Homo sapiens: one gene and its partners. The protein of the gene in region 6 purifies or fractionates together with the protein of the main gene of each other region. This does not show direct contact. Each region holds a gene or a part of one and is shown on either strand. Other genes may lie near its edges.

Region 1 (3,500 bases), on a different chromosome or scaffold from region 6:
CACAACTGATTCTTACGTTTATAATAGGGAAAGAAATAGAAAATTCACTAGGCAGTTAATATTCTTAACTGTTTTGAATTATTACCCCCTTACAAATTCCTAAAGTGTGCCAGTGTCTTATTACAGCCATGAAAAATACAAGTTTAAAGGAATGATTCCTTTTTAAACTTTTTAATACTGTAGCTGTAAAAAGCTCATCTACAAATACATTGAATGCCACCAGTTGTGCATGGGGTTAAAAGTGGATGGGAAGCAGATTTCAACCAAATGTAAGAAACATATTCAAATGCATAAACTCGTCTGTCTGTGGAACTAGAGCAGGCCAGCTCAGGTAGCTCTAGGATTCTCTAATATTGCTCCAAGTGGGAAGTCGTGTTTACCTAGGCCTTGTGCAAAGAGAAACAGCAGGAACAGGGATGGAGGCTGTTGTGATTCTTGTGGGAGACAATGGCAAGACGGGTCCATCTGAAATGGAGATTTCATTTGGGAAAACAGGAAGTGTTGAAGAGTTGCATGAAGAAATAGGTATCAAATTATTTGGGATCAATAGTATACTTGACTCTGACACTTGACTCTTTCTTTCTCTACAGCCAGTGCGGATTTTCCATATAATCCAGGACAAGGCCAAGCTATAAGAAATGGAGTCAACAGAAACTCGGCTATCATTGGAGGTAGGTGATGTCTAGAGGAGGCTTATATGGGGCTACTCAACTATGGAAAGTAATAGTTGTCAATAACATAGTAGTCTAGGAAAAAAAGTTTTCTAGGTTTTTACATTATTCATTTTGCTGTTTAAAGATTATGACATATGATGTGAAGAAATATAGTAAATATAGCCGGGCACAGTGGCTCACCTCTGTTATCCTAGCACTTTGGGAGGCCGAGGTGGGCAGATCACCTGAGGTCAGGAATTCGAGACCAGCCTAGCCAACATGGCAAAACCCCATATCTACTAAAAATACAAAAATTAGCTGGGCGCGGTGGCTCACGCCTGTAATCCCAGCACTTTGGGAGGCCGAGGCGGGCGGATCACAAGGTCAGGAGATCGAGACCATCTTGGCTAACACGGTGAAACCCCGTCTCTACTAAAAATACAAAAAATTAGCCGGGCGCAGTGGCGGGCGCCTGTAGTCCCAGCTACTCAGGAGGCTGAGGCAGGAGAATGGCGTGAACCTGGGAGGCGGAGCTTGCAGTGAGCCAAGATTGTGCCACTGCAATCCGGCCTGGGCTAAAGAGCGGGACTCCGTCTCAAAAAAAAAAAAAAAAAAGAAAGAAAGAAAGAATATAGTAAATGTAACCTGGCTACTTTTTAATGCTGGCTTGTAAAAAACAAATAGCAGTGGAAAGCTGGACAGACTCAGAATAATTAAGTAGGTAGTAGTGACCATAGCCAGGACATTTCTTTATCCCCCTCGGATATTTTTCAGTCTTATCCTTTCGCATCCAAAATGGTCCAGGATAGCGTACTATAAAAAAATGAAAAGGAATGCTGGGTGCAGTGACTTACGCCTGTAATCCCAGCACTTCGGGAGGCCGAGGCAGGTGGATCATTTGAGGTCAGGAGTTCAAGACCAGCCTGGCCAACATGGTGAAACCCCATCTCTAAAAATACAAAAGTTAGCCAGGCGTGGTGGCGCATTCCTGTAATCCCAGCTACTCGGGAGCCTGAGACAAGAGAATTGCTTGAGCCTGGGAGGTAGAGGTTGCAGTGAGCTGAGATCACACCACTGTACTCCAGTCTAGGTGACAGATTGAGACCTTTCTCAAAAAAAAAAAAAAAAAAAAAATACGAAAAGGGAAATGCCAGTCTGATTTCAGTTATCATAATAAAAATTATCAGAAAATCACTGGAGGTCATTATTTTAAGTGAAATAAGCTAGGCACAAAAAGACAAATATTGCATATTCTCACTGATACACAGGAGCTAAAAGATTTACACACATGGAGGTAGAAAGAAAAACACGTAACAGAGATTGGGAAAGTTGAGCAGGAGGAGGAAGGAGAATGAAGAGAAGTGGGTTACAGGGTGCAAACATACAGTAAGAAAGATAAAAGGAACAAGTTCCGGGTTTGCTAGCAGGGTAGGATGACTATATCTAACAAAAATGTACTGTACTTGGTTGATGAACCCCTAAATACTATGACTTGACCACTATTCCTTATATACGTGTAACAAATTTTCTCATGTACCCCGTAAATTTGCACAATGAAAATAATAAAAACTAAAAATGTATCAGAAGATTTAACAAGCTGTAGCATCTAAAATATTCCAGTGTTTTCTTCTCACCATGGACAGCTACATAATAATTTGACTCTCCTCGGATAGCCACTGAGCCTCATGCGTAGATCGATATTGACATCCCTGTTACCATTAAGATCCCAATCCTCACTGTCTTTTGCTTTTTTAAATGAACTTAATTGAAGTATAATACGCATCTATAAGTGTAACAAGTCCGTAACTTTTATTTATTATTATTTTTTGAGACAGAGTCTCACTTTCTGTTGCCCAGGCTGGAGTGCAGTGGCGTGATCTCAGTTCACTGCAATCTCTGCCTCCCGGGTTCAAGCGATTCTCCTGCTTCAGCCTCCTGAGTAGCTGGAACTACAGGCACGCATCACCATGCCTGGCTAATTTTTGTATTTTTAGTAGAGACAGGATTGTACCATGTTGGCCAGGCTGGTCTCCAACTCCTGACCTCAAGTGATCCACTCGCCTCAGCCTCCCAAAGTGCTGGGATTATAGGTGTGAGCCACCGTGCCCGGCCCCAATCTTTTTTATAGTTTGTGGTTGGTTTGTCCTATCTAAAAAGTCTGCCTACCCAAAGGTTTTGAAGATTTTCAGCTTTCTTCTAGAAGTTGTATCACTTTATCATTTGCCATCAGGTCTTTAATCACTTCGAGTTAATGTTTATAAATGGTGTGAGAGAAGAGTCAACGTCAGTATTTTCCAAATGAATATCTAGTCATTCCAAGACCATTTGTTGAAAAAAAAAAAACTATACTTTTCCTCAATTGAATTTTCTTGGCACTTTTGTTAAAGCAACTGACATATGTGTGTGTGTGTGTGTGTGTCTATTTTCTGGGCTTTTTGTTTTGTTGGTCTATATATATCTTTCCTTAGCCAATATCATGCTTGCTTTATTGTTGTATCTTTTTTTGTTGAGATGGGAGTCTTGCTTTGTTGCCAGGCTGGAGTACAGTGGCGCGATCTCGGCTCATGCAACCTCCGACTCCCTGGCTCAAGCGATTCTCCTGCCTCAACCTCCCGAGTAGCTGGGATTACAGGCACGCACCACCATGTCCAGCTAATTTTTGTATTTTAGTAGAGACAGGGTTTCACCATGTTGGCCAGGATGGTCTCAATCTCCTGACCTTGTGATCCACCCACCTCGGCCTGCAAAACTGGTAGGATTACAGGTGTGAGCCATCGCTCCCGGCCTGTTGTATCTTTATACTAAGTCTTGAAATAAACAATGTAAGTTCTCTAATCCTGGCCAGGC
Region 2 (3,500 bases), on a different chromosome or scaffold from region 6:
AAAAAAAAAAAAAAAAAAAAGCAGAGTACTGTGGAGAGGAGGAAAGGAAACTTGGGATGCACAGGTGATTGTTAGCAGAGCTGTCAGGCTTTAGGCTTTTGGACGGTGACAGCTATTTCAGGGACAGTTGCAAACCAGCATGGTTAATGTACTTGCAACTGACCATGCACCAGGTGCCGTGGCTCACGCCTATAATCCCAGCACTTTGCGATGACGAGGCGGGTGGATCAACTGAGGTCAGGTGTTTGAGACCAGACTGGCCAACATGGTGAAACCCCGTCTCTATTAAAAATACACAAATTAGCTGGGCGTGGTGGCGGGCACCTGTAATCCCACCTACTCAGGAGGCTAAGGCAAGATCCCCCAGCTTGAACCCAGGAGGCAGAGGGTGCAGTGAGCCAAGATCGCACCACTGCACTCCAGCCTGGGCAACAGAGTGAGACTCTGTCTCAAAAAGAAACTGACCACGTTCCTCACCCGCCCATGGTATCTGTGCTGCAACCCAGCCACCAGTAGGGTGCCTTCTCCTCGGTAGCCAGATCATTCTCTGGCACGCCTTGGCACAGGCTCTCTGGAAGACTGAGGGTAGATTGTGTAATTCACAGAAGCAGCAGTCTGTGTGTGGTGGAAAAGGAGTTCCTTGTGTGGCAATGGTGTGGGCCCGACCAGTGATCATCGCGTCTGCCCCTCATTCACACCGGAGTTCTCACTTGAGCCAGCCACCATGCTTTTGCAGTATAAACACCTCCCAAAGATTCATTTCTTTTTTTTTTTTTTTTTTTGAGACAGGGTCTTACTCTATCACCCAGGCTGGAATGTAGTGGTGCGATCACAGCTCACTGCAGCCTCGACCTCCTGGGCTCAAGCGATCCTCCCGCCACGGCCTCCAGAGTTCCAGAGTAAAGCTGGGACTACAGGCGCATGCCATCATGCCCAGCTAATTTTTTTTTGAGACAGAGTCTCGCTCTGTCGCCCAGGCTGGAGTGCACTGGCGTGATCTCAGCTCACTACAAGCTTCACCTCCTGGGTTCACGACATTCTCCTGCCTCAGCCTCCCAAGTAGCTGGGACTACAGGCACCCGCCACCACACCCGGCTAATTTTTTTGTATTTTTAGTAGAGACAGGGTTTCACCGTGTTAGCCACGATGTTCTCAAGCTCCTGACCTTGTAATCCACCTGCCTTGGCCTCCCAAAGTGCTGGCACGCCTAGCTAATTTAAGATGCATTTCTGGTTGTGCTGCTGTGACCACTAACCAGAGATTAGAAACCAGCTAAGGAATCTTGGAGATTGCATGTCACCCAAGCTGGAAATTTCTTCCCAAGTAGTGGAACAGCCAGGGCAGAGGGAACAGACGCTACTGCAGACTCTGCTTCAGCCACTGAATCAAGGGAGAGAGTGGCAGCTCCGGCAGCCACGGGGCAGTGGAAGGACCCAGTCACGAGAGTTCCTGGCTGTGCCTGTGGCCTGGGTTAGCTGCTGTTCACAGTCAGACCAGCCTGGCTGGATGCTGACGTTGAGGGCTCCCATATTGGCAAACCAAGGGAGGCTGCGAAGGCCAGTCTCTTGTTTGCACCATGTCCCCAGAGGCCTTTGGTGACACCCCTGTTAAAGACTGCTGTGTCTCAGTAGAAAGAATTATATACTTGAAGCTTGGGGATCTAGAGTCAGCTTCTACCACTGGCACTTTCTATGGAGCCTTAGGCAAGTCACTTTGATCTCTTGGGTACTACAAGGGGTTTTGGGGCAATAAATAACCCAGAGAGCTTGCTCACATGCTGAGGGTGAGACCTCGTACAGGTGGGGGAGGGTGTTTTGAGACTTAGCTGAGAACGGGTGACACCCCACGTGAACATATTTATTGGACAGCAAGAAGCATATGGTCTCTGTGCTGGGTGGGAATGATACATATCAATGACACATTATCCCAGGCTGGCCTCTTCTTTTCTTTTCTTTTCTTGTTTTAAATACACAAGGTCTTGGCAGGGTGCGGTGGCTCACACCTGTAATCCCAGCCCTTTGGGAGGCGGGCGGATCGCTTGAGCCCAGGAGTTTGAGACCAGCCTGCGCAACATAGTGAGACCCCATCTCTACAAAAAAATATTAAAAATTAGCCAGGCATGGTAGTGCATGCTGGTAGTCCCAGCCACTCAAGGGACTGAGGTGGGAGAATCACCTGATCCCAGGAAGGCAAGGTTGCAGTGAGCTATGATTACACCACTACACTCCAGCCTGGGCAACAGAGTGAGAACCTGTCTCAAGAAAAAAAATAAATAAATACACAACGTCTTGCTCTGTCACCCAGGCTGGAGAGCAGTGGTGCAATCACGACTCACCGCAGCCTTGAACTCCTGGGCTCAAGCGATCCTCCTACCTCAGCAACATTGCAAAACCCCCACCTCCACAAAAAATTTTTTTTTAGTTTAGCTGGGTGCAGTGGTGCACACCTATAGTCCCAGCTACTCAGGAGGCCGAGGCAACAGGATTGCTTGAGCCTGAGAGGACAAGGCTGCCGTGAGCTCTCAGGGCACCACTGCACTCCAACCTGGGCAACAGAGTGAGACACCATCTCTCAAAATAAAAGAAAAAGAAAGGGGGCACAGACTCTGGAGTCAGACTGCCAAGGGCTGAGCCTCAGCTCTACCACTTACCAGCTCTGTAACCTTAAGTTACTTACCCTCTCTCTATGCCTTAGTTTCTTCATTTGTAAAATGTGGATAATTTACCTGCTCCATAGGGCAGTTGTGAAAGTGAAGGCACTTAGAAAAGTGCCTGGTAGTAAAGATGAAGGGAGGCTGGGCGCGGTGGCTCACACCTGTAATCCCAGCACTCTGGGAGGTCAAGGCGGGCAGATCACTTGAGGTCAGGAGTTCCAGACCAGCCTGGCCAACATGGCGAAACCCCCTCTCTACTAAAAATATAAAAGTTAGCCGGTCACGGTGGTGCATGCCTATAGTCCCGGCTATGCTGGAGGCTGAGACAGGAGAATTGCTTGAACCCAGGAGATGGAGGCTGCAGTGAGCTGAGATCACACTACTGCACTCCAGCCTGGGTGACAGAGCGAGACTCCATCTCAAAAAAAAAAAAAAAAACCAAGATGAAGGAAATGTGTGCACAGAGTTCCATCTTTGCAGTGTGTTACAGTGCTCAGTAGATTCAGAGACTCATTTAGATGAGAGATGGGACTAGGGGTGGTGTCTCACGCAATTAGCCAGACATGGTGACGGGTGCCTGTAATTCCAGCTACTCAGGAGGCTGAGGCAGGAGAATCGCTTGAACCCGGGAGGTGGAGGTTGCAGTGAGCTGAGATCGTGCCACTGCACTCCAGCCTGGATGACAGAGCGAGACTCCATCTGAAAGAAAAGATAGATGAGAGGTGGGTGGAGGGGTGTGAGTGAACGGCCGTCCTGATGAGATTGCTCCTTGCAGAGGAATGAAGGTGATAGAAAACCGGGCCATGAAGGATGAGGAGAAGATGGAGATTCAGGAGATGCAGCTCAA
Region 3 (2,739 bases), on a different chromosome or scaffold from region 6:
AGGTGTTTTATTGAGCATCTGATTTGTGTCAGCACCATGTAAATATGATGAGGAGTATTTGGAATAGACTTTACATTCACCAGAAAATTGATAGTATTTGTTAAACCAATGCATCCATTCAAAATAGAGGCAGAGTAAACAGCCTAAGAAATGATTTCCTTTCTACAGTCTGCTAGGAGAAAGAGGTGAGAGGGGAGTGGTTGATGATTTTAATCAAGAGTAAAGGGAACATTTATTACATGAAATCTGACTTCAGTTGTGCAAAGGTATGTTAAGACATTAAGACAATTGCTGGAAGGTTTCAAATATGTGTACACACACATAGAGCTACTTTTGTGTGTTTATTTATATGTATATTTCACAAAGGCTAATGCCCACAGAGGAAAATGATTATTTTAACTTCTGGGTTATCATCTGCTGGCAGGGTCTGATCAGGTCTAGAGTATTTAAGGAAAAGTCTCCTGTCTTCTATCTCCACTAGAAGTACTGCAGCTTGAGAGCTGAAAGGAACTTGAAAAATGTTATCCAGTCTTCACTTAGCCCATTTTTATCGGCATTAGGAAATAGGGTTCAGCAATGGTTATTGATTTAGCAGTCTGGTCTTATATGATCTGCTTTCTAATTATCTATCTAGTATTCCTATATTATACTGGAACTTCAATAAATTATAACCTATGTGAATATCATAAATTCTTGTGAATTTTTGTCTATTTCCAGTAGAGAAGCATACTCAGCCAATGTTTTCACTTAATAACTATGACAACCTTAAAGGATGTCACTTAAGTTAGAAAATAAGCAGGCTTAAGAAGTGATTCTAATTAGGACCCCCACTCAGTTTGCTAGTCATGCCTGCCTGACAGAACATAAGCTTTTGTAAAGTATTTAGACTGATAACACATGCAGTATGAAAACATTATAGACTGCAGTTAGAAGACTAATTTTTTAAAAGCACTCAAAACATAGAACTAAGATTTAGAATATATGTCCATTTATAATGAAATAATTTGTGTTCATAATGTGAACATGTAAGATAAGTAAATAAAGCATTACTTGTTTTATAATATCAGGAAGAGAGAAGGAAACATTAGTTTATAACAATGTGCTATTTAATATCTGTATTTTGAACATTTAAAATACTCTGATGGTAAGGTTGCCAAAGTAATTTTGAATTCATAAAAATTGTTTATACCACAATAATGTGGGATATGTTTACAGGCTCTTTTATTTTGTGGTAGTTACTTTATAGTTCAGATGAATTTGCATTTCAGTCACTTATAGTAAATAAAGTATATTAAATATTTGTTGGAATAAAAATCTCAATGTAATAGGACATAGATAAATTATGCAACAGCCTGCTTTGATGAAAGCTGGTGCATTATGTGAGCTGCCACAGTTAATACTTTGTATTAACATTGCTTACTTCCCCCATTTGCTTCACCTATCTGACTACAATTGCTGGAATCATTCTTTTTGTGGTGCTTCCTCCAAGTGAAATAACTATGTTATTAAAACCTACTGGATTAATTTTATCAAATATCAGACTTACTGATCTCTTGGCAGAGATTTATTGGTGTCTCAGTGTGATCACAATACAAGTTGTAGCAACCATTTTATAAAACTCTTAGAGAATTATGTAGATAAAATGGAAATTACATAATCCTAAAACATTTTTGAGGGCTAATTGATAATAATTTCAGCAATTTTATTAAGAACCCAGTAAATTAATCCCTAATTTGTATGTTTTTTGTTCAACTTACCGTGTCTGCAACCATTATATAGACTTCATTGATACTCAGCAATTACTACAGTGTGTCTTACAATGTTATAAAAAACAAACAGCAATCTCTGTTTCTGCCAGAAGTTAGATATTTTTTTATAGTCCTGATGAATTTGTTGTGAGTAGACACCACATAGTTATTTCTGTTTGCATATAAATTTGCTGCTATTTATTTGTATGTTTTTCTACTGTAGTATGCTATTGATTTCTGAAGTTATAATCATAATTTTTATTTTAGTAATCCAAGCTAAATGGGCAACCAGAAGTAATATCTGCTAGGGTGCAATCCATCAGCATTGGTTCAGTGCATATACATAAGTAAACCAGTTTAAAAAAATTTTACTAAGCAAAAGGTAGTAGCAATATTGCTAGTTAAAGATTACCATTTTAGGGGAAAGTTCAAAGGTTTAACTTCCTGAAACCTTTTAAACTTTTCAGTGCAAGAATGAAAATGTTTGAAAGCCTTGTTAAGCTCATAAAAGTTTCATTTAAACACTGTAGAGTTTCCTACCTTTGTTGTGTAAAGGATATAGAAAATATTTTTCTATGGACAGAAGGTTGAAACTGTTAACTTCTTTAATTTCATTGTTTAAAGGAGATAAAATGTTATTTGTGTGTCTTTCATGCTGTAAAGAAAATGAATGTATCTTTCAAATGTCATTAGAATTATGGCTTGATTCTAAGGATACTCTATTTGTTTTAAAGTCTACACGGGATTGAAAAGAAAGGGAAGAGTATTACACTTCATTGTACAAAATGTAATTTTAGAAGAAAAACATTTTCATTATAAACAAGAGCAATCATTGAAGCATTTTCAGATATAATGTACATTCTTTTTCATTTTGCTTTGCCTCTAGAATAGAAACTTTTCAGAAAATTTGCACATACTGTTTGTAAGTATAAAATAATTGAATTCTAGACTTTTGGAGTGTGGAAGGGTGTTTGTGTGTGAAGGTAATAAA
Region 4 (3,500 bases), on a different chromosome or scaffold from region 6:
AATGTTTAGCCATTCTAATAGGTGTGTAGTGATGTTTCATTGTAGTTTAACTTGCATTTCCCAAATGACTTGTATTTACCTAAATGTTGAGCATTTTTCATGTACTTATTTGCCATCCATATATCTTTGGTAAAATGTTTATTCAAATCATTTGCCCATTTTTTTATTGGGTTATTTGTTTTCTTATTATTGAGTTTTTCAGAGCTCTTTATATGTCCTGGATACAAGTCCCCTGTTATATATATGTTTTGCAAATACTTTTTTCCCAGTTAATAACTTGCCTTCTCTTAAGAGTGTCTTTTGAAGAGCAAACATTTTCAATTTGAGTAAAAGTCCAATTTCCACTCACTTTTTCTTTTGTGGATTGTGTTTTTGGTTTCACATCTAGGAATTTTTTTTCTTTTTCTGAGACGGAGTCTTGCTGTGTCGCCAGGTTGGAGTACAGTGGCGCGATCTCGGTTCACTGCACTATATGTATATGTATGTATGTATGTATGTATATACACATACACCATATATATGTGTGTATATATATACATACATATACAAAACAATTGCTTACTAGATGCACAAATCAATGGAATAGAGAGTTCATAAACAGGCATATCTCTCTTTACATATATATATCTATATCGATCACACTATATATATGTGTGTGTGTATATATACACACATATATGTGTGTGTGTATATACACACATATGTGTGTGTGTATATACACACATGTGTGTGTGTACATACACACATGTGTGTGTGTATATATATACACACATATATGTGTATATGTGTATATATGTGTGTATATATGTGTATATATGTGTGTGTATATATATACACGCATATATATGCGTATATACATATATATGGACTCATATATGTGTATATACATATATATATATATATATATATATATATGGACTCACAGTGTGTCCTTGGACAAGTTATATAGTCTCTGTGTGCCTCAATTTTCTCAAGTATAAAACAGAGATAATTATAGTACACAACCCTTATGGGGTTTTTATGGATTGAGTGAATGATTATAGAGCACTTAGTATGGTGCCTGGTACATATATAGTGCTTCTTATACTCCTGAATCTTTTTACTTCTATTCAGACTGGATTTTCATTGGAATTAACAAATCCCATTATTTTATCTCACATTATCATTATGGAAATTTAACTGTGGAGATGAATTTTAATGAAAAATTTGTATTGCCGCTTAGTAAGATAATAAGATGTTCATTTTTGTTTTCTGTTAGGAAAATAATGCTTAACTTGGTTTAATAGCTGTAGGACATTAAATTGATATCAGACGAATTACAACTCTTGAAATTTTTCTTTGATTTTTTTTTTTTTTTTTGAGACAGAATTTGGCTCTTGTCTTCCACGCTGCAGTGCAGTGGTGCGATCTCGGCTCACTGCAACTCTGCCTCCTGGGTTCAAGCGATTCTCCTGCCTCAGCCTCCCAAGTAGCTGGAATTACAGGCGCCCACCACCATGCCCAGCTAAGTTTTGTATTTTTAGTAGAGACGGGGTTTCACCATGTTGGCCAGGCTGGTCTGGAACTCCTGACCTCAGGTGATCCACCCGCCTCGGCCTCCCAATGTGCTGGGATTACAGGCGTGAGCCACCACGCCTGGCCACTTTCCTTGATTTTTTAAAGTATATCCATTACCTTTTAAGGATTGTAGTAAGAAATAGTCTAGGCCAGACACGGTGGCGCATGCCTGTAATTCCAGCACTTTGGGAGGCTGAGGTGGGTGGATCGCTTGAGTCCAGGAGTTCGAGACCAGCCTGGACAACATGGCGAAACCCCATCTCTACAGAAAATACAAAAATTAGTTGTGCATGGTGGTGTGCACTTGTAGTCCCAGCTACTCAGGAGACTGAGGCGGGGAGGATTGCTTGAACGGTGGAGGTCGAGGCTGCAGTGAGCTGTGAGTGTGCCACTGCACTCCAACCTGGGCAACAGAGTGAGACCCTGTGTCAGAAAAAAAAAATACAGTCTAAACTAAACTCACTTCATAAGTGGCTCTTAGGAAAAAATAATTTAAAACATGACCTTTCCATGTTTGTGATTCTAGACACTTTATTTCAGAACTAGTAACCTGCAAAATTACGAAGGATTTCAGTTTCAGTTGTTTATTATTACTTTTTTTTTTTTAAAGTGTCAGGGTCTTGCTTTGTCACCCAGGCTGGAGTGCAGTGGCATGATCATGGCTCACTGCAGCCTTGAACTCCCAGGCACAAGCAGTCCTCCTGCCTCAGCCTTCTGAGTAGCTAGGACTACAGGCGCACACCACCATGCCCAGCTAAGGGTTTTTGTGTTTTTTTACCCCCCTTCCACCAACTCACTTCAAATAATCTGCTAAGTTTTAAAAAACTTTTTTAGAGCTAGGGGAGTGTCACTGTGTCACCCAGGCCAGTCTCAAACTCCTAGTCTCACTAGGCCACTGGCCCACTCTCAAGTAGCTGGGATTACAGATGTGAGCCACTGTGTCTAGCTCCTAATGCTTTTTGTTTTGAAAAACTTTCAGGAATTGTTGAGAAAGTACAGCAACATAAATCTTAAATTTCTCCTTGGAAGGCCGTGCTGACAATCCAACTAATTTTATACTACAGAACTATTTAGCTATAAAATCTTTAGCTATCAGATTAATTTCTCCCTATGAGCTAGGAAAAGTGGAGCGTCCAGAGAAAATACTTAGGGTAGTAAATTACATTTAACTCCTCAGCATTGGCAGCTGTTATGGACTGAATGTTTGTCAAATTCATATGTTGAAGCCCTACCCCCCTACACATGGCTGTATTTGGAGATGGGACCTCTAAGGAAGTAATTAAGGTTAAGTGAGGTCATAAAGGTAGAGTGCTGATCTGATAGGATTAGTGTCCTTATAAGAAGATTCAGTTAGCTTGCACTTGCTCCCTCCCTCTCCTTCACACAGAGGACAGGTCTGGTGATGACATAGCAAGAGGTTGGCTTTTGCAGTCTGAGCAGACTAAAACAGGCTGCCATAACAAAATACCACAGACTGGTGGCTTAAATAACAGAAGTTTATTTCTCACAGCTCTAGAGCCTGGGAAGTCCAAGATCAAGGTGCTAGCAGATTCAGTGTCTGGTGAGGGCTCTCTTCCTGGCTTACAGACAGCTGCCTTCTTGCTGTGTCCTCACATGGCCTTTCCTCTGTGATTCATCCTTCTGCCTTACCTCCTACAGCCATTGAATTACCAGTCTGCTGATTCTGTTTCCTCAGTATTTCTCAAATTCATCCCATCTTCTTCTTCCCTACTAATTACAGCTCTGGTTCCAGCCCTTTCTGTATGACTACAATAGTCTCTCCGATCAATCCATGTTGCATGTGTCCTTATCTCATCAGAGTAATTATCCTGACATGTAAATTTTGCTTATTTAAATCTTTCTGTGGTTCCCTCTTGTCTGTGGATAACTTCTAAGCTTTATATAATACGGTTTCTGCCTACCTCTGTAGCTTCATCTACTAG
Region 5 (3,500 bases), about 79 Mb from region 6:
ATGTTGGCCAGGCTGCTCTCGAACTCCTGACCTTGTGACCCACCTGCCTCAGCCTCCCAAATTGCTGGGATTACAGGCATGAGCCACTGTGATGGGCTTTTTTTTTTTTTTCGGAGACCAAGTCTCACTCTGTTGCCCATGCTGGAGTGCAGTGGTGTGATCTAGACTCACTGCAACCTCCGCCTACCGGGTTCAAGCAATTCTTTCACCTCTGCCTCCAGAGTAGCTGGGACTGCAGGCACACACCACCACGCTCGGCTAATTTTTGTGTTTTAGTGGAGATGGGGTTTCACCATGTTGGCCAGGCTGGTCTTGCACTCCTGACCTCAAGTGATCCGCCCACCTCGGCCTCCCAAAGTGCTGGGATTAAAGGCATGAGCCACCACGCCTGGCCACTATCCCTGTTTGCATAGAGCAAGATACTGAGGCTTAGAGCAGTCATATAACCCACCCAAGTTCTCACTACAGCATGGTGAGCGCGATTCCCACTGACTTCAGACCTGCCCTGTGAATGATTCCCCCACTACACTCCCAGCCTACCTACACTCCCCACTACCTCTCATGTCACTGTGACATGAGACGGAGAGGAAGGTGTTATCAGTGGCATGGTCACTGCCATCTTACCTAATTACGGTACAGGTAATCCCCAAACTCATGCCTCCTGACCAGTACAGATTTCAAGAAGATCGTTATTTTGCTTTAGCTATGAAAAAGAAGAGAGTTGTTTGTATTTACTTTGTTGGTACAGTTTTTGCACATGGAACACCATAGAATGGAAGTATACAAGGATACGGAAGACCTAGTGGAGCTGTGTAAGCTGGCATGTACCTCTCTGCTCAGTGATGTGAAAAAGCCCTACTTGATTTGTCATTTACATCTTTGCTGTAGTTTTATTTTCTTCCTCTCTATTATGCCCTAACAGTTGACTGCCTTTGCATACAAAGATTATTTATCATTTGGATATGTATATGTGGGTTTGAGAGGGACGGAAGAGATGACAAGGCGGTACAACATCAATATCTACGCCCCTACCCTCTTGGTCTTTAAAGAACATATAAACAGGCCTGCCGATGTTATCCAGGTACGTGAGGGTCACCTTGGTTAAGATTTTCTTCACATTTTATCCCAAGATTTTATGTAAATAAACAGCAAAATTGAACAAAGTGGCTGAAGGAAAGGATCTTCCTTCAGATGCACAAAATTTTTTAATGAATTTTTTTATCTAACTTGGTACCGTTTGCTTTAAAATTTTTAATTTAAAACGTTTAAAAATTTTAGCACCTTTAAAGGGCTCCTGTTGGAAAACCAACAATCTTTTTCCAAAATGAATTTAAAAGTTAAATGTAAAACAGTAATAAAAAGGAATAAGAAGAAGCCACAAACTAACTGAGAGAATGTACAGATGAATATTTATCTGATCTTAAGGTAGGAAAGGGTTAAAAAGCATTGGGGAAAAATCTTGGAAAATCTTGATAACTTGACTCTAAATTTTATGTTTTTATGTAAATACTTTAAAATGTAAAGTTAAAAAACTGGGGGAATATTTATAACAAATATTAAAATGTTGATATTTTTAATTTCTAAAGAGCTTTTAATCAAGAAAATCATAAAATTCTGAGAAGACTAATAACCATTTTTAAAAATTAAATCTCACAAGTAATCAGAGAACATTAACCTTTTTTCACCCATCCAACTGTCAAAGATTTTCTAAGTTAAAATAGTACTGTTGAGGGTATAGAGAAACAAGTACTATCTTGCTAGAGGCAGTCCACTCTAATGGCAGCTCAGGTGTCCTGTGAACACAGAAGGGTACCTGAAACCATGGAAACCAGATGGGAAAGTGGACCGTAAAGAAAGAAGAGCAGGTTTAGAAAGATAAGAACTTTGGCTGTGGACATACTGAATTAGAGCTGCCTGTAGGAAATAGAAGGGGAGAAGTCCTTTCTACAGTTGGGTATAGGAATCGAGATCTTAAGAAAAGCATACAGGCTGGGGATAGAAACTGGTGTATCATCAGTAAATGGTTAGTGGTTGAAGTCCTGAGTAGGGTAAGATCTTCCCGGCATAATACCGTAGTCTCCCCTGATCCACCCCACTTACCCCTTTTTCAGTTTCTGAGGTTTCAGTTACCCACAGTCAACCAGGTCCAAAACATAGGTGACTACAGTGCAAGAAGATATTTTGAAGCCGGGCGTGGTGGCTCACGCCTGTAATCCCAGCACTTTGGGAGGCCGAGGCGGGCAGATCACGAGGTCAGGAGATTGAGACCATCCTGGCCAACGTGGTGAAACCCCGTCTCTACTAAAAATACAAAAAATTAGCCGGGCGTGGTGGTGGGCCCCTGTAGTCCCAGCTACTCGGGAGGCTGGGGCAGGAGAATGGCGTGAACCCAGGAGGCGGAGCTTGCAGTGAGCTGAGATCACGCCGCCCACTGCACTCCAGCCTGGGCGACAGAGCAAGACTCCGTCTCAAAAAAAAAAAAAAAAAAAAAGATGTTTTGAGCGAGGGGGACCATGTTCACATCACTTTATTACAGTATATTGTTAGAATTGTTCTATTTAAATATTGTTGTTGTTAATCTCTTGCTGTGCCTAATTGATAAACTTTATCATAGGTATGTGTATAGGAAAAAAACATAGTTTGTATAGAGTTCAGTACTATGTGGTTTCAGGCACCTACTGGGGGTCTTGGAACGTATCCTCTGCAGTTAGGGGATGACTGCTGTATGTAAAGTAAGGCCAAGGAGGCCAAGGACAAAACTCAGAACAGCCACCGGCACACAAGACAAGGGGGTGCCTGATGGAGACGAGAAGGTGCTGCAAGTCAGGAAGAAAACAAATACCAGTGTCCGAATAGAAAAGAGAAGATAATCTCAATCCAGGGTAAATGGATGAGGATTTCCTAAATTGGTCTTTCGGAACAGTTTATAGTTCTGAGAATTATATTTATTTATCCCACTGGGGAAAATTGTAAATCAAATACATTTACAAAATTATTGGTAGAATGGCTGCTTTACCAGCTTGCTCTTTGTGGATATCAAGTGTATGCTTAACAAACTCAGTTTTCACAACAGCAGGTGGCTTAATGATCACTAGTAGCACCAGTGGTTTCCTGTTGCTCTAGGTAATTTGTTGTCATTGCTATATGGTATTTATGGCCATTATAATTTATTGAATCATTCTTCCGTTGGTGGACATTGGGGGCTTTGAGGAATAGTGTTGCAATGAATATCATAACCTAAGTACAGAGTTCTCTAGGACAGCAGTTTTCAGAATGTGGTTGATAGACTCCTGGGGATTCTCAAAGATCCTTCAAGAGAAAGTCTGTGAGATCATATCAAGACACGATTTGCCTTTTTCACTGTGTTGACATTTACACTGATAGTACCAAAGCAGTAGTGGGTGAAGCTGCCAGTGCCAGTGCATGAATCCAGGCAGGGCACCAGGCCACCTACCATCATTGTGTGCTTCACCCCCAATCACTCGCAGCAAAAACAAACC
Region 6 (3,940 bases):
ACAAAGTGATGTTTTCCATTTACCATCATTCTTTCCTTTGGAAAGCCTGTGGTGAAGAATGGAAAGTTTTTCTGGGTGGGAGAGGTGGGAGTGGTTTCTGAGGATTCCTGAGTCCCTCCTAATAAAACTATGACTTTATGATTATTATTTTTTATGTTTTGTAGACACAGGGTCTTGCTTTATTGCCCAGGCTGGTCTTGAACTCCTGGCTTCAAGGGATCTTCCTGCCTCGGCCTTCCAAGAAACTACTACTATAAACCTTCATTGTCCTAATTTCAAACATGCAATTGCGATTCTATATGACAGGTGATATAGGAGGTGTGTACATTGGTCTAGTACATTGGCCACCAAGGTAGTCACTGTCAACCGTGCCTGCAAAATCAGGAAAATGGAATCTTGAGGGATGATAGGAAAAGGCAGGGCAGGAGAGGATACTGGAGGGGTAAGTAGAGGCAGAGATAGTCCAGACTTTGAGACTTTGTTCCTTATGTTTAATGCAAATATAAACACAGGCTGGTGCTGCATTTGCAAGAACCATCTCTGCTTATAATTTCAGCTCCTTCCCCCAAGCCTTTGTCCAGCCCTAACTCAGGGCACACCATCACCAGTCAGGACATCTGTCACAAGACCTGAAAGCTGAACAACAGAGGCAGAAAAAAAAGTCCAAAAACAAAACACTCCTTGCTCTGTTTTAAATACCTGCAAATAAAAAATGTTGCAAAAGACACTAAAAGCCAGTGAGCTAAGAAAGGACTCTGACTCTTAAAACAGAATGCCATAGTGAGAACTTGGATATATTAAAACTTCAGACTTATTTTGCAAATGAAATGTAATTTTAAAGCAGTTTCCAGCTCCGTGCCACCTCTCAGCTGGTTCACAATTCTTCAGGCTGTGATAGGTCATCTACAAAGATTTTCCCCAGGATTCTCAGCTGTTGGGCTGAGAGTTTGGTAGTGAGGTCCTAGGTTGAAGCTGTGGAGGGGCTACGGCAGATCATTAAATCACAATAACAGCTTGAGGTCAAAGCTGCCAGGCACAAGGCAGGCCAGCTGCTCCCTGCATTTATACAACAGCAGTCTCAGATAAAAACACCAACCATCTGCGAAGTTAAGCAGAAGGTATTGTAGGTGCACTGTCTCTCCCAGCTCCTAGGGGAGAGTTCCAACGTAAGCAACAAAAAACATCTGATTATGTGTTTCAGACCTAACCTTCCACTGTGCCTGTAACCAAGCCTGTCTATGTGAAACGGGTCATAAGTGAACAAATGCCTTTCTTACTTGGAAAGAACAAACATGATATTTTAGGGCCTATTCAGATGGAATTCTTTTCAACAAAGGTAATTACTATCTGGTAGTTATTACCCTGCTCTATAAATTAATCATTTACCATGCAGCAAATAGCATGCCTTATCCTGGCATGGATGATTTCGTGAAAGTGGCCTTTGAAAATGTCGGGTGAGACGTTTTCTGCTGTTACCTACAATTCTAAAATAAGTATAAAAGCAGCAAGATTCGGCTTCCAACAGACTCTCTCAGGATTATAACCGCATAGCCTGATGGAGTTTACCAGCAATCATACATACCTCGAAATTAGAGTGGGAAAAATCATTCCTTGTTAGCTATGGTTAACAGTGTTGGCTGCTAAACACAACATATCTCTCGCGCGCGTGTGTGTGTGATGTTCAGCTAAAGGAAATGCAGTTTATTTCTAGGCTTACCCTGGCTTTTCCTTTGTTAAAGGTGCACCAAAAGCTTGAGGAATATTTGATTTGGGGGTGTGGCAGGTGCTAAAAGAACTTCTGTTCAGTAAGTTCGGAGAGTAAAAGGAGACACATTGGCCTTACTAAATAGCAATCACATTGCAAACTGTTAATTCCCATTTCCTAATGGAGTCACCCCTTAGAACATGGCCTGTAGCAAAAAGACAGCCTTTCTAGCGAGTCTAGGACAAGAATTCTCCCGAGTACAAACTGATGTTTATTGTGGGTTAACGGCAGAAGTCTCTCACTGCAGCACCAACTACGATTTACATTTGGGACAGAGTTATTTCCAGACGTGCACACACACTCTGGCCTCTTTCCTACCAAGCACCCACACTTACCAAACCAGTCCAAAAGAGAAAGAACAGGAATAACCATGCCGTATCTGTGCATTTCCTATAAATCTGGGGTCGCCACTCCCTTTGCCTAGGGGCTCCTTCTGCAGAAACCTTCCAGAAAAAGGGAGAGTTGAGAAAAAGAAGATAAACAGGTGGACTCAACCTGGAAACCGAACCCAAATCTACTCGAAGAGGGGCCAAAGTAACCAATCTTTTTCTAAATTTTTAAAATTAATATTATTTTTTTACGTGGCCACCTGAAGCTCTTTCACACAGCCTTTGAAACACCTGCTCTGCGCGGAGCGGATGTTAAGCCCCCTGCCGCCAAGTGCTTACCTGGAGGTGCACCTGAGGACGACCCCAAGTTTGCGCCCCGCGGCCCGCGTCTCCCCCGCCTCCGCCCCAGCACTGGAGCAGGGTCCAGGTTCCTCCCCGCCAGGTGGCCCCAAGGTACTAAGCGGGGGCGGGATCCCCGAGGCGCGGGAAAGGCGGAAGCGTCCGGCAGGGAAGGTGCGTGAAGGCGGGGGACTCGACCCTTCCCCGGGGCTCCTCCCCCGAGGGCCGAGGCTGCGAGCGCTTACCAGGTACTCGGCGCCCAGGCAGTGCATCGTGCGCTCGCCGGCGGGGGCCGGTGACTGGGAGCCGCCGCCGCCTCCTGTACGCGGAGACGCAGCGCCCGCGAGCCGGGGCCGGGGCCGGGGCTGGGGCTGGGGCTGGGGCTGGAGCCGGGGCCGGGCCGGGGAGGGGCGGGCACGGTGCAGCGCCGCCTCCCGTTCGCCTCTGCGCCTGGCCCGGCGACTGCGGGCGCTGCGGTCCACTGGGTCCGCCTCTTCCCGGCATGGGTTTCTGCCCAGCTCACCCGCTGTCAGCTGGGGTCCTGCTCTGGTGGGAGGAAGAGGCTCAGACGCTTCCCTGCCCTCTCGCCTCAACCACCTCGAGGCAGCGGCTCCCAGGATGTGCACTTTGACGACTAAAGCTGAGCCGGCGCCGCCACGACCTTGGGCGGGTGGTCGGCCTCTGCCCTGAGCAGGAAGTAGAAAGTCTCAGCAGACCCTTCCTGAGGGCCGAGCAACAGTGTAGTGGCGTATTCCACATAGCAAACAGGTAAGCAGCATTTACTGTGTGCTGGATTCTGTTCTCACTGCTATTGTTATTCCTAATCTACGGAGGAGGGAAACTGAGGCACGGCCATTGGTGATGCAACTTGTTCGAGGAGACCCAGTAAGTTGTGGAGGCAGGAGTCGAACCCAGACACTCCGGGAGACCGGCGCTCTCGAGGTGGTTTACTCTGACTTCTCTCCCACCTTGCCTTAGGACAATCATTGCCTGACTTCGCAATTGAAATGGTAGTGTCCACTGAAGCGACTGGTGGCATAGTTTTCCAGGTAGTGTCAGACCAGCGCAAAAGCACTGTTGGGGTGAGGAATTTAAAAAACGAAAAACAAAAAAAACTGCAGGCCGACCTCCCCCCACCTCCTCTCAATCAAGCCTCTACCCTTCCCCCTGCCACCCTTAGGGTTGCTAGGTTAATTGCTTCCTTTAGGTGCTGCTTCTCCCTAAGGGTAGAAACCTGACTGGAGGAAAGATCTGGGTAAGTGGGAGAAACTGGGAATGATAGACAGTGGTTCTCTGGTGCCAGCGATTTCCTTCTGGGCTCACACCACCCTCCCACTGCAAACTCACTGGGCCTTCCTGGATGCATGTTTATCAGACAGAGTAGGTGAAACCCCAGGGGAACATGAATTCATAGGACAAAGAATTAGACACTGGAGGAGTGCAACTACTGTTAAAAGACCACAACTGAATAACATATGCCATCTGAAACTGATCAGTAGAGCAGATG
Region 7 (3,500 bases), on a different chromosome or scaffold from region 6:
AATAATATCTTTTAATTGAAAACATCCCAGTGATAATGCTTACTGCTTTGGCAATTATGAGCCTCCATTTGTTAGAAACACCATCCGAATGTCTTGGTGTCCTTGACAAAGGAACTATATAGAAGGGCTATACTAGCCATTGCTTGAACATAATAAACACGTTTTCTCTCGACATATTTCAGATTTGTCTTGTTTCTTGAGACTATTCTGCATTCATTCTGAACTCTTTTTTAGACCAAAGAGGTCTAAATACATGATGGATGAAAAGATAGGAAAGAGAAGGCAATCAGTCAGTTCTGTTAAGTTTTAAGTTTTTCATTGAAAATATTTTTGTGTGGTAGAAATACAGAATTGTCCTTTTCCATTACAACTTGTCTGATATTTGTAAATGCTTGTTTCTTTTAGGAATCACAGTGCATTGATAACAAGTGTAGTCCCTGGGGATTATGATGGAGATTCTCAAATGGATGTCCTTCTGACATATCTTCCCAAAAATTATGCCAAGAGTGAATTAGGAGCTGTTATCTTCTGGGGACAAAATCAAACATTAGGTGAATTTGTTTTAAAAATTTTTAATATTTATCATTGAATATGAAGGTAAATGTAACAAAATATTGTTCTGAAATCAGTTCAAAAATACTGTTCTTGGGTGTCAATAATTGTAAAACCTTTTTTCAAAGTTTATTTCCTGATTTTTCTTTTTCAACCCTGAACTGGGCAGGGATCACTTCTACTGACAAACTTCATTCTTACTAGCTTAAAGAGGACAGAGATTTATTAAAGGATTTTAGTGGCTCACAGAATCATTGAGATGGCTAAAGAATAAACTCTAGGTTGAGCTTTCAGGAGCAATCCCAATATCATCAAAAAAGCTACTGCCTCTTTCCCCTATCAGAAGTGGCTAGTTACACAACTGCTGCCAGAATGATGCTGTGCCTGCAGTGATTCTCACTAGCAAAATGAATGCTGCACCTGGTCTCTTGATACTCCCAAATTCAGTGAGCAGACACAGATAGAAATAGCAGAGAAACAGCCTTTACCTCATTCATGCCTTTAAGACTCACAGTGTATCTGATTGGCAAGGCTTAACTTTTATTCAGCATCTCAGATGCCACAATATCTGGAAAATGCTATTTTTGGTTTCTAGTCTCCTTAGCACAGGAAAGCACAAAAAAGTTGAAGTATGGTTCGAGAGTCAGTCTACCATACCTAGTCACAAATCATCAAGCCTTATCTGAAAAGCCAATTAGTTATACCTAAATAGGCAACTTTGTTCATGGAGCCAAATTTCAGTCATGTTTTCTGCACCATTTGGGAATGTAAACAGTAATCGCGATACATTATATTCATTAAGTCAATAAATATTTACAGAGGGAGTACCATGCACAAAGCTTGTATATAAGCATGTACATTTTAGAACCAGGAAGTTTTGCATATGTGGCCTTCTTTACACCAAAACCTTGTTAATTGTCAACCTCTCTAGCACTAAATTGTGTAAAGACAAAGACTCAGCTAGCAAATATTTAGATGCATACCTCAAAAGGAGGTTATTGTAATGCTAGTCTTCACTGTAGAATGTATTCTCCCAATATTTTGTCTTTGCAAGCTTGATGTTCATTTGAACTAGATTTATAGTATCTCATTAATGATAATAGTTGGAATAAATCAGAGATAAATCTAGAAAAGAGTAGAAGAATATTTTTTCCTAAGCATAGATATCAAAAGTAATATAAAATGCCTGCTAATTCATATATATATATATCTTTTTTGCAGATCCTAACAATATGACCATACTCAATAGGACTTTTCAAGATGAGCCACTAATTATGGAGTAAGTATGGGCTTGCTTCCTTTGAAACGATTTTAAACTTAAACATAAAATAAAATCTTCACATAGGAAACTACTTTGCTTAGTAATAAAAATACTAAATTCACTCAGAGGCCTGTACCTTTGATTATATTGTATTTATTTGCCATCAGATAGGACAAAGAAAAATGAAATTTATTATTTTGGAAAGTAGAAGAGATTTGTGTTTTTATTTCAGTCGCTTCAAATGTGTCCATTATGGATCTATGCTGTCATTACTGAAAGAATTAAGATACCTGTTTTTGAGTAAAACTGTTATATTTGATATTTAGGATACAGTTTCCTCTAGAAATTTAGAAAGATTCCTATATTAAGGAGAAATTTTTGTTCTTTTTATAATATAACTCCTGCTTTGTGTTATCATTTATATTCTCACTGTAGACTCATGTACCAGCATAATTGATTTAAATAATTGATGTAAATTTGGATTTGCAAATTTCTGACAGCGTATTTTGGTAGAGGTCGAGATCATTCCCGGGACTAGAGCAAAGTTTGGCCACATTCTTGTTTCCAGTACTGTCTTTCTTACAGTTATTAAAATCATACCCATACAGCAGTGTGTCAGTGGCCATTAGAAGTCTGAACTGTAAATCCATGGATTAATCTTCTTAACGGTGCCCCGCTAGATTTCTTTCATAGTTGTGTATTTTTTCATTGTTGTTAAAATATTCAATGGCCAGTATGAAGTTTTATACCAACTAGGATTATTTTTCTAGGTTATTTCTCCTAAGCCCATCTAAGTAAACAAGTTGGCTTAGGATTCTGAAGTAAGTTTCTAGGAATTAGTGCTGTATCCTTATCATTCAAGGGTAGTCTAGATAATGCAAAGATTACAGAGATACCCAAAATCTCACAAAACGAATTTATTTCTTGCTCTTACTATATGTCCAGTGTGGGTCAACAACAGGCTCTGCTCTGTGCTGTTGCTTAGAGTCAGGCCATCAGAGAGCCCACTGTCTTTGTAGCTAGTCCATCTGAATCACAATGCCTTCTCATTGCCATGGCAAGCCTGGAGAGGGCTGGAGGGGCTGGTAACAGAAATTATACACTTTGGCCTAAAAGTGACACATGTCACTTGTGCTGACATTTGACTTAATACTTATCACTAGATACTGGCGAGCATTGTAATGTCTACCACACTTCCCAAAAGTTACTGCTTCTTTTAAAGCTAAATTAGAAGTAAGAATTTAAAGAAATAGCTGCTTATTGTTTTAATTTTTTTTCAGTTTCAATGGTGATCTAATTCCTGATATTTTTGGTATCACAAATGAATCCAACCAGCCACAGATACTATTAGGAGGGTGAGTAAATATGGTTATAACTATGTAATTAATCGTATATATTGCTTCTACTTTAACCATTGGAGAAAAAATAGCTCATTGGAATCCTTGTTTTTAAAGATTTTTAAGTGGGCATTTGGTTAATATATATAAGCTTTCTCAAATAGTTTGGATTTGGCCTGCACCTGCTTTCCAAGGGCCAGCTTACTCCTTTTATCTCTTTGAAAAATTAGAGATTGAAACTTTACGGGTCCCCATTTAAATATTGGTTCATTAAATGTTTTTGAAATGGATAGATTTCACGTAAATAGGGAGGATACCTGCAGTCTTGAGTGGATCCTCCCTATCTTAGT

The links.
Region 1: the proteins of SLC44A3 (region 6) and CNTNAP2 purify together in Homo sapiens (affinity purification with mass spectrometry; one large-scale study listed by BioGRID and IntAct). This does not show direct contact.
Region 2: the proteins of SLC44A3 (region 6) and TPM4 purify together in Homo sapiens (affinity purification with mass spectrometry; one large-scale study listed by BioGRID and IntAct). This does not show direct contact.
Region 3: the proteins of SLC44A3 (region 6) and PTPN4 purify together in Homo sapiens (affinity purification with mass spectrometry; one large-scale study listed by BioGRID and IntAct). This does not show direct contact.
Region 4: the proteins of SLC44A3 (region 6) and RP2 purify together in Homo sapiens (affinity purification with mass spectrometry; one large-scale study listed by BioGRID and IntAct). This does not show direct contact.
Region 5: the proteins of SLC44A3 (region 6) and DNAJC16 purify together in Homo sapiens (affinity purification with mass spectrometry; one large-scale study listed by BioGRID and IntAct). This does not show direct contact.
Region 7: the proteins of SLC44A3 (region 6) and ITFG1 purify together in Homo sapiens (affinity purification with mass spectrometry; one large-scale study listed by BioGRID and IntAct). This does not show direct contact.

What each region holds. Positions count from the first base shown.
Region 1 is NC_000007.14:148,408,801-148,412,300, forward strand, and holds part of CNTNAP2 (contactin-associated protein-like 2 precursor), read left to right. Parts: intron 1-590; coding exon 591-671; intron 672-3,500. UniProt on the Homo sapiens protein: Required for gap junction formation. Required, with CNTNAP1, for radial and longitudinal organization of myelinated axons.
Region 2 is NC_000019.10:16,082,995-16,086,494, forward strand, and holds part of TPM4 (tropomyosin alpha-4 chain), read left to right. Parts: intron 1-3,428; coding exon 3,429-3,500. UniProt on the Homo sapiens protein: Binds to actin filaments in muscle and non-muscle cells. Plays a central role, in association with the troponin complex, in the calcium dependent regulation of vertebrate striated muscle contraction.
Region 3 is NC_000002.12:119,979,922-119,982,660, forward strand, and holds part of PTPN4 (tyrosine-protein phosphatase non-receptor type 4), read left to right. Parts: 3' UTR 1-2,739. UniProt on the Homo sapiens protein: Phosphatase that plays a role in immunity, learning, synaptic plasticity or cell homeostasis. Regulates neuronal cell homeostasis by protecting neurons against apoptosis.
Region 4 is NC_000023.11:46,847,043-46,850,542, forward strand, and holds part of RP2 (protein XRP2), read left to right. Parts: intron 1-3,500. UniProt on the Homo sapiens protein: Acts as a GTPase-activating protein (GAP) involved in trafficking between the Golgi and the ciliary membrane.
Region 5 is NC_000001.11:15,547,348-15,550,847, forward strand, and holds part of DNAJC16 (dnaJ homolog subfamily C member 16 isoform 1 precursor), read left to right. Parts: intron 1-922; coding exon 923-1,081; intron 1,082-3,500. UniProt on the Homo sapiens protein: Plays an important role in regulating the size of autophagosomes during the formation process.
Region 6 is NC_000001.11:94,819,217-94,823,156, reverse strand, and holds the start of SLC44A3 (choline transporter-like protein 3), read right to left. Parts: upstream 2,801-3,940; 5' UTR 2,706-2,800; coding exon 2,679-2,705; intron 2,557-2,678; exon of another isoform or gene 2,434-2,556; intron 2,209-2,433; coding exon 2,101-2,208; intron 1-2,100.
Region 7 is NC_000016.10:47,451,064-47,454,563, reverse strand, and holds part of ITFG1 (T-cell immunomodulatory protein isoform 1 precursor), read left to right. Parts: intron 1-405; coding exon 406-551; intron 552-1,773; coding exon 1,774-1,831; intron 1,832-3,093; coding exon 3,094-3,168; intron 3,169-3,500. UniProt on the Homo sapiens protein: Modulator of T-cell function. Has a protective effect in graft versus host disease model.